Homo sapiens: one gene and its partners. The protein of the gene in region 1 purifies or fractionates together with the protein of each later gene. This does not show direct contact. Each region holds a gene or a part of one and is shown in the gene's direction. Other genes may lie near its edges.

Region 1 (3,648 bases):
ATCTCTTTTCCATTGACTCCTCTGATGCTTTTCCTGTTGTAATCATCTTAGCAAAATCTCTTACCTGTATGCTACCCCTCCCAGTGGAACATCTAGCACCACTCCCCTCATCCCAGCTCCAGCTGCCATTGACCTCCTCCCTGCAATCCTTTTCTAGGCTGTTACCCTTCCTAAGGTAATCCCCACCATCTCTTTCCCTCGTACCCCTCCCTAGTCATGGCCAACACACACCTTGCCTGCAGGTGTTCTTCAAGGCCGGGCTGCTGGGGCTGCTGGAGGAAATGAGGGACGAGAGGCTGAGCCGCATCATCACGCGTATCCAGGCCCAGTCCCGAGGTGTGCTCGCCAGAATGGAGTACAAAAAGCTGCTGGAACGTAGGTGAGAGATCTCAAGAGGAGGTTTCCCGCTTCTCTGAGGCCCAGGCTGGTTCAGGGGCAGTGTCAGGAAAAAAAGCTCAGCAGATCTTCAAACACAGAGACCTGCAGGAGGGGCTCATATGAACACACTGCAGTCACAGGGTCAGAGGCCTCAGGAAGGGTGGGAGGGATGAAGGAAATGGGATATTCCCAAGGTTTCAGGACCTCAGGTAGGAAGGAGGCAGGAGGCTCAGCACTCCTTTCAATGGGCCCCTGCAGAGACTCCCTGCTGGTAATCCAGTGGAACATTCGGGCCTTCATGGGGGTCAAGAATTGGCCCTGGATGAAGCTCTACTTCAAGATCAAGCCGCTGCTGAAGAGTGCAGAAAGAGAGAAGGAGATGGCCTCCATGAAGGAGGAGTTCACACGCCTCAAAGAGGCGCTAGAGAAGTCCGAGGCTCGCCGCAAGGAGCTGGAGGAGAAGATGGTGTCCCTGCTGCAGGAGAAGAATGACCTGCAGCTCCAAGTGCAGGCGGTGAGGCTCCTGGGCTACTGTTGGCTCTTCCACCCTGCTCTGCCTTCACTTCCCACAACCCTGCACCTCCCTGCACAGGGGCTCACTGTCTTGTTCCTTCAGTCAGAGGACTCTGGGATCAACACTTCTAAAGACCTCCAAAGAGGTCCCTCAGGAGGAGGAAAGGGCAGAGGGAAAAGAGCTGACTTTTAAAAGCACAGGCTTTCTACTTGGGTTCAACCTAGATACACAGCTTAATTATTTTGTGACCTTGGGCAGACCATGCATCATCTTTGAGCCTCAATTTCCTCTAGACAGGGAATAAAGCTGTCCATTTCATTAAGCCATCATACATAAGTGCTTGGCATCAGCAAATGCAATTCCCACCCTTCGATGGAGGAGACCAGAGGAAGAGGTCCAGATGAAGATTTCTGGTTCCTTTCCTCTCTGCTCCCCTCCCCAGTGTTCCCAAGTTATACTATCCTGAAACTCTTCCCCTCCCCATACTTCTGAAGCTCTTGCCAAGTGGGGATATCCTAGAGTTACCCTCCTATTTGAGTGATGTGCCTCTCCTTCCCTCTACCTGCAAGAATGAGGACCTTACCCCCTGAACAGCCTCCCCTCTGTTCCTCACCTTCAGGAACAAGACAACCTGGCAGATGCTGAGGAGCGCTGTGATCAGCTGATCAAAAACAAGATTCAGCTGGAGGCCAAGGTGAAGGAGATGAACGAGAGGCTGGAGGATGAGGAGGAGATGAATGCTGAGCTCACTGCCAAGAAGCGCAAGCTGGAAGATGAGTGCTCAGAGCTCAAAAGGGACATCGATGATCTGGAGCTGACACTGGCCAAAGTGGAGAAGGAGAAACACGCAACAGAGAACAAGGTAAGGGCAGCTCCCTTTGGCTCCAGCCCGGGTCTCATCAGGACTCTCAGACCATACTGACCTTGACCCAGGCTAGCCACTCGGCATCCAGAGAGCAGCATGGACCTTGACATGGAGCTCCCCACAGATGGCACCAAGCTGGTGACCTTTGACCCTAAAGGAGATGGGATTCTTGGTCGGCAGGTGAAAAACCTGACAGAGGAGATGGCTGGGCTGGATGAGATCATTGCCAAGCTGACCAAGGAGAAGAAAGCTCTGCAAGAGGCCCACCAACAGGCTCTGGATGACCTTCAGGCCGAGGAGGACAAGGTCAACACCCTGACTAAGGCCAAAGTCAAGCTGGAGCAGCAAGTGGATGATGTGAGTAGATTGAGAGTTGTGGGGCCTAGATATGCCATGTCTATCTGTGCCCAGAGCTCTGTGTGTGTGTGTGTGTGTGTGTGTGTGTGTGTGTGTGTGTGTGTGTGTGTTTGTGTTTATGTTTAGAGGGGGGTAGGGTTAGAGGATGTTAACTTTTCTGATATCTTTCTAGAAAGGAGCTGGGGAATGAAAAGTCAGAGGTGGTGATCAATTCTGAATTATGTATCTAATCTCACTGGTATGATCAATAATAGAGATGAGTTTTCTTATTTAATTTAAGTGCAATCCCATATATCTCTGCCTTTGACACAAGATTTAGAGGGTCATCTCATAAGAACATGATAAATTTCTTTGGAAATTTTGTGAGGCTCCCCAAGTAGAATTTTTGAAATTCCAATATTTAAGGCAGAATCTGATCATTGTTCCCTCTGATGCACATATGTCTGTTGACTCACTTATCACTCTGTATTTTAATTATTTAAGCTTCTATCTCAGCCATAAGACTACAAGCTTCCTTTAGATAGGAACTTAGATCTATTCAATTTGGGGACTGCAGTGCTTAGCACAGAGCCTGATGCCCAGTAGGTGTTTATAGGATGCTGAAAGAATGAATACGGCGGCCAGCCGCGGTGGCTCACACCTGTAATCCCAGCACTTTGGGAGGCCAAGGCGGGTGGATCACGAGGTCAAGAGATCGAGACCATCCTGGCCAATATGGTGAAACCCCATCTCTACTAAAAATACAAAAATTAGCTGGATGTGGTGGCGTGCGCCTGTAGTCCCAGCTACTCAGGAGGCTGAGGCAGAATAATCCCTTGAACCAGGGAGGCGGAGGTTGCAGTGAGCCGAGATCGCGCCACTGCACTCCAGCCTGGCGACAGAGTGAGACTCCATAAAAAAAAAAAAAAAAAAAAGGAGGAAGGAAGGAAGGAAGGAGAGAAAGAAAGGAGAGAAAGAAAGAAAGAAAGAAAGGGAAAGAAAGAAAGAATACGGCTTTGGGGTTTCATCCCACAGTCATTTATTCCTTTATCTATAAAATATTGATTCAGCATCCCCTATATCTAGGCAATCTCACAGTCCCCTAATAACATTTGGCCCACTCTGGGGAAGGTTTCCCAAGTCCTGAACACAAAGATTTACCAAGTCCTGAGGTAACTGAACAACAAAATCACCAAGTCAGGATGCTTTGCCTCACTGGGCCTGGCTCCTTCTCTCTACCAGCTGGAAGGATCCCTGGAGCAAGAGAAGAAGGTGCGCATGGACCTGGAGCGAGCGAAGCGGAAGCTGGAGGGCGACCTGAAGCTGACCCAGGAGAGCATCATGGACCTGGAGAATGACAAGCAGCAGCTGGATGAGCGGCTGAAAAAGTACTGTGTCCCCTCCCTGCTGCCCTTCCTCCTCCCCAGCCCATAACAGTACAAGCAGACCCAAGACAGCCATCCTCTGAGGCAACAACCTCACGCAGCCTCCACAAGTGGAGGCGCAAACCATGGGAAAAGGCCTCCCAGGCAAGGGCTTTCCTCCCCTAGTCCCA
Region 2 (3,648 bases), on another chromosome or scaffold:
GCTGATTTCGTGCCCCTGCACTCCAGCCTGGGCGACAAAGCAAGACTCCATCTCAAAACAACAGCAACAACAACAACAAACCAAAAAACAACAACAACAACAAAATCGTAATTCAAACCATGGTAAGCTTGGGACCATCTGTAGAACTGAGAAGGCAGTAAGGGGGTGAGCCTGATTCAGAGCTGAGCAGCTGGAAAACAGTAGGCTGTATATATTAATCTCATTATGTTCTAATAATTTCCAGGTGAAGCATCAACCAATTTTCATAAAAGAAAGATTGAAGCTTTTTGAAATACTGAAGAAAGACCATCAGCTCTTACTTGCCATTTATGGAAAAAAGGGGGATACAAGCAACATCATCACAGTAAGAGTGGCTGATGGGCAAACAGTGCAAGGGGAAGTCTGGAAAACAACGCCTTACCAAGTGGCTGCTGAAATTAGGTAAACCGCAGTGTGGAAAAGATATTCAATCTTAAGTAATTATACTGAAGCCTGGTGAAAATGTTTTCTTAGGGACCGCTAATATATTACTCCATTCTCACGATACTAAAAGGACATGTCTGAGACTGGGTTATTTATAAAGGAAGAAGATTTAATTGACTCACAGTTCCGCAGGGCTGGGGAGGCTTCAGGAAACTTACAGTCGTGGCAGAAGGGGAAGCAAGCATGTCCTTCTTCACATGGCAGCGGCAAGGAGAAGTGCAGAGCAAAGTGGGGGGAAAACCCCTTATAAAACCATCAGATCTCATGAGAATGCACTCACTATCAAAGAACAGCATGGAGGTAACAGCCCCTGTGATTCAGTTACCTCCCACTGGGTCCCTTCCACAAAACGTGGGGATTATGGGAACTAGAGTTCAAGATGAGGTTTGGATGGGCACACAGCCAAACCATATCAGCTAATTTTTTTTTTATTCAGTTGAATAAATTAAATGTATTTAATTTTTTTCCTCTGGCTTCTCCAAGGGCCATGTAAATAAGTAGTTGAATATCAGAACACAATCATTTCCTGTTCTAATAAAAATATATAGGAGAGAAAAAAATCTGTAATTCTTGATAGGCCATTTTACACTGACTTTATTCGTCAATCAAGTAATTTCCATGAGTTTTTACAGGTCTTTTAAGTATAGATTGAAGATAAATGTTTTAGAGCTATTATCAGTCTTGGAAAAGTGCTTTGACTTTTCTAGAAATTAGATACATTAGTGAACTTATATTGTTTTGACTCATGTTAATTCTTAGCATTAAATACAATTGTATAGAAGCTATTGTATAAATACAATTATATAGCTTCTATACAATTGTATTAATGCCATGTAAATAAATGTTCATCATTTAAAAAGCAAACTGTTTCAACAACTGAAATTCTCAGATTTTCTTTGAAAACTATGGCTAAGATTGTATTTCTGATTCATCCTATTATATTGTTAAATGCTCTCCCAGCCTGTTTTCATGTTTTCCAGGAGGAATGATGTGCTAGGAGAAAACAGGTTTTGAGGCAAGAATAAGTTTGTTTTCTCATGGAGAGTCAGGTTGCATGTTAAATGTGTTGGGTCAGTATTTCTCAAAGTGTAGTCCCCAGACCAGCAGCATGGGCATCACCTGGAAACTTGTTAGAAAAGCAAATTTGGGGATCCCACCTCAAACCCCCTGAATTGATCAGCCATCAGTGTTTTTATGAGCTCTCCAGGGGCTTCTAATGCAAGCTAACCGTCTAGAAGTGACCAGTCAAGCCTAGTGGACATCTCTGGTCCATGCAGTTATTTATGGACCCAGCTTCCTCCCATCTTGTTGATCTGCTGTCTCCTAGGTAGGGTTTCTTTGTGTCTAGCGGTGGAAGCTGGGTCCTTGCATGGGCCTGCCTGCAGTCAGGAGGAAGAGAAGCTGCAGAGCAATGATGCTTTGAGGCCAAGACCCCATAGTGGCTGGCTTCAGTTTCCACTTACATCCTCTTAGCTCACATTTAGTCACATGGCTATGCCTAGCTGTAAGAGAGAATTGGAATATAGCTCCCTTGGCCGCCCAGCCACATGTCCAGCTAAAGCATTCATACCATGGAAGAGAGGAATGGTTTATGGAACAACAGAGAGTCTGCCACAGTCTGCCCCTCTGACATCCAGATATCTGTGGGTACTCTTCTTTCAACATCTGACACACTCACTCCCCAAGTGAGACAACTCTTATGTTCCATAGCTCAAAGCCTGGGATTTCTGAGTGATGTACAGAACACCCCCCATCAGGCTGACCACTTGTATTCTAGCAACAAATAAACTGATAGACAAGTCTGCTCACACCACACGTGCATACAGTACACAGAAGACAATCACAAAGTGTGTGCTTGGAAAAAAGAAGGAGGAGAAATATAGCAGGGAGTGGTATAGAGAAGTCATCAGATTCTGCTTGAAGCCACCTTGAGGCCCCACAGCCTGGCAGCAGTTAGTGCTTGTGTCAGCCCACCTGTTCATCCTTTGTTCTCTGGAAGCAGCTGTCTTATCCCATGATCCTCCATGGGCCCTGATTTTGCACTTTGGGAAGTTCGGAGTTGTCCATTACCCTCACTTGTCACATCTGAAGTGCACGAGTTTGTCCTCTTGGGATCTGTGCAGTTTCCACAGCTCAGTTCTGTGGTGCACATTTGGGGCCTGAGGGTTCCCTTAAGGATCACATAGTCACAGATATTTGTGAGCTGAGCTTATGATTTGTTTGGCAATACAATTACCATGATCAGTTAGCCATAGTAGGCTCTGGTCTGTTTGCAGCTAATCCGTTCCACATGAAAGTAATCTCACTTAAAGAATCTTCTAGATAGAGACTTCTCACCCTGTTGTTGCATGGCTTTTTTATTCGGCTCACTCCTGTCTCCTTGTTTAATGGACTGAGATCATATGAAGCAGAGGCTTGTGGGAGGGAGGCACTCTTGCTCTCTAATCCTTGCAGTTCCACTGGCCTCTATTGTCTGGATTTATGTGTGGCCTTTGAGAAGGGCTATCAATGCCTGTCCCTCCTGCGGTTTGGGAAAGAAGATTGTCTTTCCCATCTTGCATAGCTCCACGTTTCTGAACTTTTAGTCAGTTGAATTACAGGACACGGGCAGAGGGAGCCTCCCTATCCCTTCCACCTCTGCTGGCAAACTAGATTGTTTTCATCTGAGATAACTCATTCTTGTAGCTTCTTGCTGAAAGCAACAAGAGTTACCCAGGGTATACCAACACTGTCCCCCCACCTCCACCCCGCCCCTTTTCTCGATCTTGGCTCACCACAACCTCCGCCCTCCGGTTTCAAGCGATTCTCCTGCCTCAGCCTCCCGAGTAGTTGAGATTACAGGCATGCGCCACCACACCCAGCTAATTTTGTATTTTTAGTAAGGATGGCGTTTCTCCATGTTAGTCAGGCTGGTCTCGAACTTCCAACCTCAGGTGGTCTGCCCACAGCAGCCTCCCAAAATGTTGGGATTACAGATGTAAGCCACCACGCCCAGCCCTACTCTCCCCTTTTATACCTGCTTTCTTGTGTGCTACAAGCACTGTGACACATGGTTTGCCTGCAAGTTTTATCAAATATTTTGATATACTATCACAAAGGTTATTGGCTCTCCATATGTTAGAATCTGTTTCCTTGTTACTCACTGCCAGTCTGTTAAGCCAGTGC
Region 3 (4,254 bases), on another chromosome or scaffold:
GCCCTAATCCAGTGACAGGTGTGCTTATAAGAGACAGACGAGAAGACAGGGAGAAGGCCATGTAGAGACGGAGGCACAGATTGGAGTGATGGGGCCACAAGCCCAGGAAGAACTCAGGCTGCAGAAGCTGGAAGAGCAAGGAAGAACTGATCCTCTGCCAGAGCCTTTGAGGGAGCAAAGCCCTAGTGTCACCTCCATTTCAGGTGTCTGGCCTCCAGAATTGAGAGAGGATATACTTCTGCTGTTTTTAGCAACCCAATTTGTGGTCATTTGTTACAGCAGCCCCAGGAAACTAACCCAGCTGGGATGGAGAGAGGACTTGGGGAGGCTGGTGGAGGCAGGAAGTGCTGAGGAAGGAGAATGAGGCCGGACTGGGTGTGTGGGGTGGGGGTAAGAGGTGGAGACTTCCACACCATCAGGAGATCAAGGCGCCTGGGCAGAAGGGTTTAGGGAGCAGTAGCTTTTTCCTCTCCATATTGCCAGCTGTCTGAAATTGTAGCAATGATCTGAATGTATCAGAATGACTCCAGTGACTGTCACTAACTTGGGAGTGAGTACCTTTGGGGTTCTATGTCCCTAAAGCCTGATGCACCATTTCCTGCTTGTGGAAGACGCGAATGAAAAATGAGATGGTAAATACCTGAGTTCGATATTCAGCATTCATTCAGCAAACATTTATTAGGCTCCTACTGTGCGTCGCGCTGGAAAGGCAAGCAGAAGCTAGATTCCCAATCGATCCCGGGAGGCTGGACGATCCAGACACAAACACCGTTCATGCGTCTATTCGAAAAGGCCCTCTTGGAATTTTGTGCACAGCATTTCCTTGGGGTGTCGATGGATCGGGGTCTGCAAACATTAGCACCTTTTCCGGTGGCCGCTGTCTTCTCAGACCTCAGACACCGGCGCCTCCCCGTGAACTCCCGCAGGCGTCCCTAGCCCAGGGCTTGGCGGGCGCTGCCGGTTGTACCTGGCCTAAGCCACGCTGGGCCGACAGCCCGGGGCGACACCCCCTTCGGACGGCGGGGATTTGCGGCTCGGGTGACCGGAGGTGCCCTCCCGCGGGTCTCGGAGCAGCTCCGCGGGCTCTCGCTCCGCGGGGAGGAGCCTGCGTCTCCCAGGGGCGGGGCTCGAGGCGCCTAGGGGCCGGTGGACACATACCAGCCGCCCCGTGGTGTCGGCCTCTGCGCCTGCGCCTGCGCCTGCGCGCGCGGCCAGGCAGCGTCTGTGGCGCAAGCGCGCGCTCACCCTTGGGCGAGGGCCCTGAGGGGCGGGGCGGGGCGGAGGAGCGGCGGGGCGGCGAGGGGCGGGGCGGGGCGGCGAGGGGCGGGGCGGGGCGGCGAGGGGCGGGGCGGGGCGGGGCCGGACGCGGCCGGGTGGGGCGGCAGCGCCCGCCGCGAGCACCTCCAGTTCTGCCGGCTTCTGCGCGCCGGGGCCGCCTCTCCTTCCGCCGGTGCCGCGGCGCCTCATGGAAGCCCCGGAGGGCGGCGGAGGGGGGCCTGCAGCGCGGGGCCCGGAGGGGCAGCCGGCGCCCGAAGCCAGGGTGCACTTCCGAGTGGCGAGGTTCATCATGGAGGCAGGTAACCGCGGCCGGGGGAGGCCAGGACAGGCGGCGCCGCGGCCCGCTTCGCGGAGCGGGCCCGGCTGGCCAGGCCGGCCTTCTGGAGTGCTCACCGTAGCAGAGGCCGGGAAGCCCTGCTCGGGGCTGAGGACCTCCGCCTTTGCGCCGCGCCCGGTGTGCTGAGCAGTGAGCCGCGAGGTATCCCCATGGCGTGGACCGGTGTGCAGGCCCTAGGAGAGGACGTGGCCGGGTTGGGCCTCCAGCGAGGCGGAGACCGGCCCGGGCGCCCGCAGCTCTGCGCAGTGCGCCACGCCTTCTGCCGGCACCCGCGGCCCTGCACTCCGGTAGACTTTATGGCGCTTAGTCGCGCGGAGCCTTTTGGAGAACGCTGTCCGAGGGTTCCTGTCACTCCGGGGACCTAGGCTGCTTGCAGCTCCTGTTCCGAACCCTGCCAGGACATCCACAGTAGTGTTGGGCTCCGCGCTTCCCAGGCGAGGTGATTAAGCTAAGATCTCTGTAGAAACATCGTTTCCATCCAGCCATCAACAGTATTTTTTTTTTTTTCGAGACGGAGTCTCGCTCTGTTGGCCAGGCTGGAGTGCAGTGGCGTGATCTCGGCTCACTGCAACCTCCGTCTCCCGGACTAAAGCAATTATCCTTCCTCACGCTTCCGAGTAGCTGGAATTACAGGTGTGTGCCACCGTACCCGGCTAATGTTTGTATTTTTAGTAGAGACGGGGTTTCACCATGTTGGCCAGGCTGGTCTTGAACTCCTGGCCTCAGGTGATCCAGTTGCCTCGCCCTCCCAAAGTGCTGGGATTACAGGCGTGAGCTACCTCGTCCGGCCCATCAACAGTATCTTGATAGGAGATACTGTTAGTTGGCGGGTAGTTATTTCCTACCTTTACTGCTTGGGGGAGAAGGGTTGGGCAGATGTGCTTTCTACCCAAGGTGGGCGGAGAGTCTGAGGACTGCTGCAGGACTGTTCATCCCAGTGATATGTAAATTTACTGTAATTTGCAAGAAGAGTTGCAAAGTTATTATTAGGGAAGGATGGCAGTGACACCTCATCTGCTACCGTCTGCTCGGAGGGTCCGTGTAAATTGGGGTTTGCTCTGTAAAACAAAGCTTGGAAGGTCATGTCAGTAACAGCACCTTATCTGGCATCTCCTGGAATGAGGGGTCCCAGGTAGGAATTGTCTTTATATAACAAGTTTAGACCTTCTGAGGGACTTCTTTATAAAATGTATTACACAATCCTTTGTCCTTTGTAGGAGGCTAAATATTGATTTCCCAAAGATGTCCCTATCCTAATCCCTGGAACCTGTGAATGTCATCTTATATAGCAAAAGAGATTTTGAAGATGTGATTAGAGACCTTAAGATGGGAGATCATCCTAGATTATCTGGGTGTAACCACACCCATCCTTATAAGGCAAAGGCAGGAGGAGTCACCGTCAGAGAAGGCCACGTGAGGACAGAAGCAGAGTTAGAAGCTTTGAAGATGGAGGAAGGGGCCAGCAACCAAGGAATGCAGCCCTCCTCTAGAAGCTGGAAAAGGCAAGGAAACATTCTCCCATGGAGCCTCCAGAAGGAGCCAGCCCTGCTTAGACGTTGATCTTAGCTTTCTAGGCTAGTTTTGGACTTCTGACTTCCAGGATCGGAGGAGTATAAATGTGTGTTGTTTAAGTGGCTGAATTTGTGGTGATTTGTTGCAGTAGCCCTAGGGAACTGATCTACCTTCTTAGGCAGAGGATGCTGACTGTCATTTCATGGTTGATTGTCGGTTGTTCTTCGCCTTTCTGTTTTGGCCTAGTGGATGTCATTTAACCTTGTCTTGTGAACCCTGGTGGTTGTGAATTTGTTTTGGTTCTGTGCACCAGGGCAGTGATTTTCTTAGGAGCCATTCAGGGATGGGCTGGGGATGGGCTTTAACCCCTAAGTAGAATCCACTGAATCCTGCTCTGGTGTTTTGAGTTTTGTTCACCTTAAAAATTTTTTTCTTTCTCTTTTTTGTAGAGACAGGGTCTCACTCTGTTGCCTAGGCTGGTCTCGAATTCCTGGGCTCAAGCAATCCTTCTGCCTCAGCCTCCCAAAGTGCTGGGATTACAGGCGTAAACCAGCATGCCCAGCCCACTTTTCAATGTGCTGGTGTCCTTCCCTGGTGCCTGGCTGTGGCCATAAACATTGCCTTTTCTCTGCAATGCAAGTGGTTACTCTTGGCAGTCACGCTGCTTGCTTTGCTCACCTCTTCTAACCTGTGGACTACGAAACCAGTGCTCAGTGTAATCTTTCACTGTGACTTCAGGACTTGTGGCACCCACGAGGCCGTTTCTTTTCTGTCGTCGTAGCTGTGGGGTGGGCGACTTCTAGCTAGCTGTTTGCTAAGGTGAACCCAGACACACAACAGCATATAGTCCTTTTCCAGGGTTTTGCAGAAGCTGCTATGCCAGTTGCTAACTGAGCGGTCCTCGGAACCCTTGTTTCCCAGAGCGTGGTCTATAGACCCCTGACATGGGCATGACCTGGGGCTTGTCAGAAGTGGAGAATCTCAGAGCCGCAGACCTACAAAAGGGGAAGTCTGCATTTGAACACCATCCCCAGGGGCTTGGGTCACCCACTAGAGTCTGAGAGCCCAGTAAGAGACCCAGCAGGAGCCACTGGCTCTGCTGGAAGTTCTTAGCCTTGTCCAAGTAG
Region 4 (3,648 bases), on another chromosome or scaffold:
AGGAACAGATACTGAACCAATTTACTTTCTTATTTTGCAGTTACTTTCCTACTGAAGAAAAATCAGAAACAGATGAAAACTCAGGCAAGCAGCCTAGCAAACTGGGTAAGTAGTGATTCTTGTGCAGAACTTAACATTTCTTTTGTCCCTCAGCTTTGATATTTAAGGACTGCAGTACGGTAAGTTTCCATGTTTTTAAATCTGGTCACTTCCCAGTTTCATATGTAGCTATGAAAAGGGTTTATGAATTAGAATATTTTTCTTGGTCTATTTTTTGCAGTTTATTTATAGTAGACCATGGTACATAATGTCCTTAGTGAATGTGTGTTGATTGAGTGAGCAATGAAATGTTTCTGTATGTAGATCAAAGGAAGACGTATAATTGATTGGACAATGAAGAGTGTGATCATAGGCATTAGGAAGGATAAGAGAAAGAAGAGAACTTTCGGCCAGGCGCAGTGACTCACGCCTGTAATCCCAGCACTTTGGGAGGCTGAGGCAGGCGGATCATGAGGTCAGGAGATCGAGACCAGCCTGGCTAACATGGTGAAACCCTGTCTCTACTAAAAATATAAAAAATTAGCCAGGTGTGGTGGCACGCGCCTGTAGTCCCAGCTACTTGGGAGGGTGAGGCAGGAGAATCGCTTGAACCTGGGAGGCGGAGGTTGCAGTGAGCCGAATTCACGCCACTACACTCCAGCTGGGGTGACAGAGCGAGACTGTCTCAAAAAAAAAAAAAAAAAAAAAAAAAGAACTTTCAAGTGTCACTTAGCTCAGAGTAATAAGCCCTGATTATATAATGCTATCTTAGTACTGTAATTTACCTTTAACTTAATGTTTTGGAACATATAACTTGAGGGGTTTGCCTATGAATTTTATCTGACAGTTTCATCCTCAACTCTTTTTCCTAAACAAATCCACCTTATTTCTGTAATCATGTGCTTAAAAGGTGTTTCTCTTTCTTTAGATGAGGATGATTCATGTTCATTGCTAACAAAGGAGAGCAGCCACAATAGCAGCTTTGAGCTGATTGGCTCCACGATTCCATCCTATCAGCCTTGCAACAGACAAACAGGCCGTGGGACCAGTTTTTTCCCTACAGCAGGAGGATTCAGATCTCCTTCCCCTGGGCTATTTCGAGCCAGTTTGGTCAGCTCAGCTTCTAAGGTAAGATGGTAATGGTTTTTCTAATCTCCTCCTCTCTTTGCTTCCCACATTGCTAAATAAAGTTTGTCCCAGCCAACCAACTCCCACCACGTTGGTACTGAGCTTATGTGTGTTCAGTTTAAAAAATCCACCCCCTTTGTGTATTAAAAACAAGCTTCATCCAGTATTCTTACTTTCTTGGAGGTATTTTTCTTTATGCTTCTCATGGCTGTGTATTGTCCCCCTCAACTACAATTTCCTGAGAGTAGCTTAAATATTGCAAATAGCAACTTTTGTGGTTGTCATGACAATGACTGACATTTGTAAAATGTTTTGTTATTGTTTGTTTTTGTTTGTGTGCCAGAGTTCAGGGAAACTGTCTGAGCCTTCACTTCCCATAGAGGATTCCCAGGATCTGTATAACGCCTCCCCAGAGCCTAAGACACTTTTCCTAGGAGCAGGAGACTTCCAGTTCTGTTTAGAAGATGACACTCAGAGCCAACTGTTGGATGCAGATGGGTAGGTAGTTTTGTGTTTCTGTGGGCGGGAATGGTGCTGGGTACTGCTTAATTTTGTTTAAAAATAAGTGAGCTTCTGTCACTCCATCTGTGCTTTCTCTTCTGAGAAAGAGAAGGTGTACAGACCATTAGTATTACATTCTATAAGTTTGAACAAAGTCTGTCCAGAAAATAAACATAAATAGCTCTTGCTAACATTCTGGTCCTTCAATTTCTGTCTTATTTGAAATGCATAGATCTTGTATTGTAAGGTCATCAAATTTCCCTGTATCCATCCTGCTATGTTATTATTGTTGGGTAAGGTTGAGAATTCACAGACTGGTGGCACATTACAGGACATAATGCCAAGCCCTGCTCTAGCATCATCTGAAGCTAAAAGTTATCCTTTACACTTTACCTTCTGAGTAACATTTTATTCTTTCACAAAACTTTTCCCTCCCTCTTTAGATTAACACAAGCCTAAAGTTTGAATCTTTTGCTTTCTGGTTTGAGATTCAGCTTTTAACTGGTGTAGGAAATGAATTCAGAGGTTTTTCACCCCCTACTTTGCCATTTCTCTGAGGAATTTTTTTTTATTTTTTTTTTTGAGGCAGAGTCTTGCTCTGTCGCCCAGGCTGGAGTGCAGTGGCGCGATCTCGGCTCACTGCAAGCTCCACCTCCTGGGTTCACGCCCTTCTCCTGCCTCAGCCTCCCGAATAGCTGGGACTACAGGCGCCCACCACCACGCCCGGCTAATTTTTTGTATTTTTAGTAGAGACGGGGTTTCACCATGTTAGCCAGGATGGTCTTGATCTCCTGACCTCGTGATCCGCCCGCCTCGGCCTCCCGAAGTGCTGGGATTACAGGCGTGAGCTACCGCACCCGGCCCTCTCTGAGGAATTTTTTACACTATTCGTTGTGCTCATTGGTTCTTAGGTTCTTAAATGTTAGAAACCACAGGAATCAGTACCAAGCTTTGAAGCCTCGATTGCCATTGGCCAGTATGGATGAGAATGCCATGGATGCCAACATGGATGAGCTGTTGGATTTGTGTACTGGAAAGTTCACATCTCAGGCTGAAAAACATCTACCCAGGAAGAGTGACAAGAAAGAGAACATGGAGGAACTTCTGAACCTTTGTTCAGGAAAATTCACTTCTCAGGGTAAATATCCAACCGAGAGTATCAAGCTTACCACACCCAAGTATCAGTGCCCTTGAAAAGAATTCCCTGGGCGGGTGGGGTGGCTCATGCCTGTAATCCTAGAACTTTGGGAGGCTAAGTTGGATGGATCGCTTGAGCTCAGAAGTTTGAGACCAGCCTGGGCAACATGGCAAATCCCCATCTCTACGAAAAAAAAAAAAAAAATTAGCCAGGCATGGTGGCACGTGCCTGTGGTCCTAGCTACTTGGGAGGCTGAGGTGGGAGGATCTCTTGAGCCTGGGAGATGAAGGTTGCAGTGAGCTGAGATCACACCAGTGCACTCCAGCCTGGGTGGCAGAGACCCTGCATAAAAATAGAAAAAAAGAAAGAAAGAAAAGAAGCCCCTTACCCTCAGGTGAAAAGTTCACAGAAAACAGGGCTGTGATGGAATCTGTGTATAAACTGAATTCACTGCTTAGTGCCCTGATATTTAGAACTCTTACTTTCTTAGAGTGGTAAAGTATCAACTTAAGACTACTTTAGGCCGGGCGCAGTGGCTCACGCCTGTAATCCCAGCACTTTGGGAGGCCAAGGCGGGGGATTTCCTGAGCTCAGGAGTTCGCCACCAGCCTGGGCAGCACGGTGAAACCCCGTCTCTACTAAAATACAAAAAATTATCTGGGCATGGTGGCCCGTGCCTGTAATCGCAGCTACTTGGGAGGCTGAGACAGGAGAACTGCTTGAACCCCGGAGGTGGAGGTTGCAGTGAGCCGAGATTGTGCCACTGCACTCCAGCCTGGGCAACAGAGAGAGACTGTCTCAAAAAAAAAGTCTTGAAAAAAAAAAAGACTGCTTTAGCTTTG

The links.
Region 2: the proteins of MYH7 (region 1) and TARS3 purify together in Homo sapiens (affinity purification with mass spectrometry; one large-scale study listed by BioGRID and IntAct). This does not show direct contact.
Region 3: the proteins of MYH7 (region 1) and CCNQ purify together in Homo sapiens (affinity purification with mass spectrometry; one large-scale study listed by BioGRID and IntAct). This does not show direct contact.
Region 4: the proteins of MYH7 (region 1) and CLSPN purify together in Homo sapiens (affinity purification with mass spectrometry; one large-scale study listed by BioGRID and IntAct). This does not show direct contact.

What each region holds. Positions count from the first base shown.
Region 1 is NC_000014.9:23,422,013-23,425,660, reverse strand, and holds part of MYH7 (myosin-7), read left to right. Parts: intron 1-242; coding exon 243-379; intron 380-636; coding exon 637-892; intron 893-1,511; coding exon 1,512-1,754; intron 1,755-1,937; coding exon 1,938-2,114; intron 2,115-3,335; coding exon 3,336-3,481; intron 3,482-3,648. UniProt on the Homo sapiens protein: Myosins are actin-based motor molecules with ATPase activity essential for muscle contraction. Forms regular bipolar thick filaments that, together with actin thin filaments, constitute the fundamental contractile unit of skeletal and cardiac muscle.
Region 2 is NC_000015.10:101,717,919-101,721,566, reverse strand, and holds part of TARS3 (threonine--tRNA ligase 2, cytoplasmic), read left to right. Parts: intron 1-244; coding exon 245-441; intron 442-3,648. UniProt on the Homo sapiens protein: Catalyzes the attachment of threonine to tRNA(Thr) in a two-step reaction: threonine is first activated by ATP to form Thr-AMP and then transferred to the acceptor end of tRNA(Thr).
Region 3 is NC_000023.11:153,596,285-153,600,538, reverse strand, and holds the start of CCNQ (cyclin-Q), read left to right. Parts: upstream 1-1,399; 5' UTR 1,400-1,465; coding exon 1,466-1,577; intron 1,578-2,376; exon of another isoform or gene 2,377-3,117; intron 3,118-4,254. UniProt on the Homo sapiens protein: Activating cyclin for the cyclin-associated kinase CDK10.
Region 4 is NC_000001.11:35,745,924-35,749,571, reverse strand, and holds part of CLSPN (claspin), read left to right. Parts: intron 1-40; coding exon 41-105; intron 106-967; coding exon 968-1,167; intron 1,168-1,510; coding exon 1,511-1,665; intron 1,666-2,579; coding exon 2,580-2,806; intron 2,807-3,648.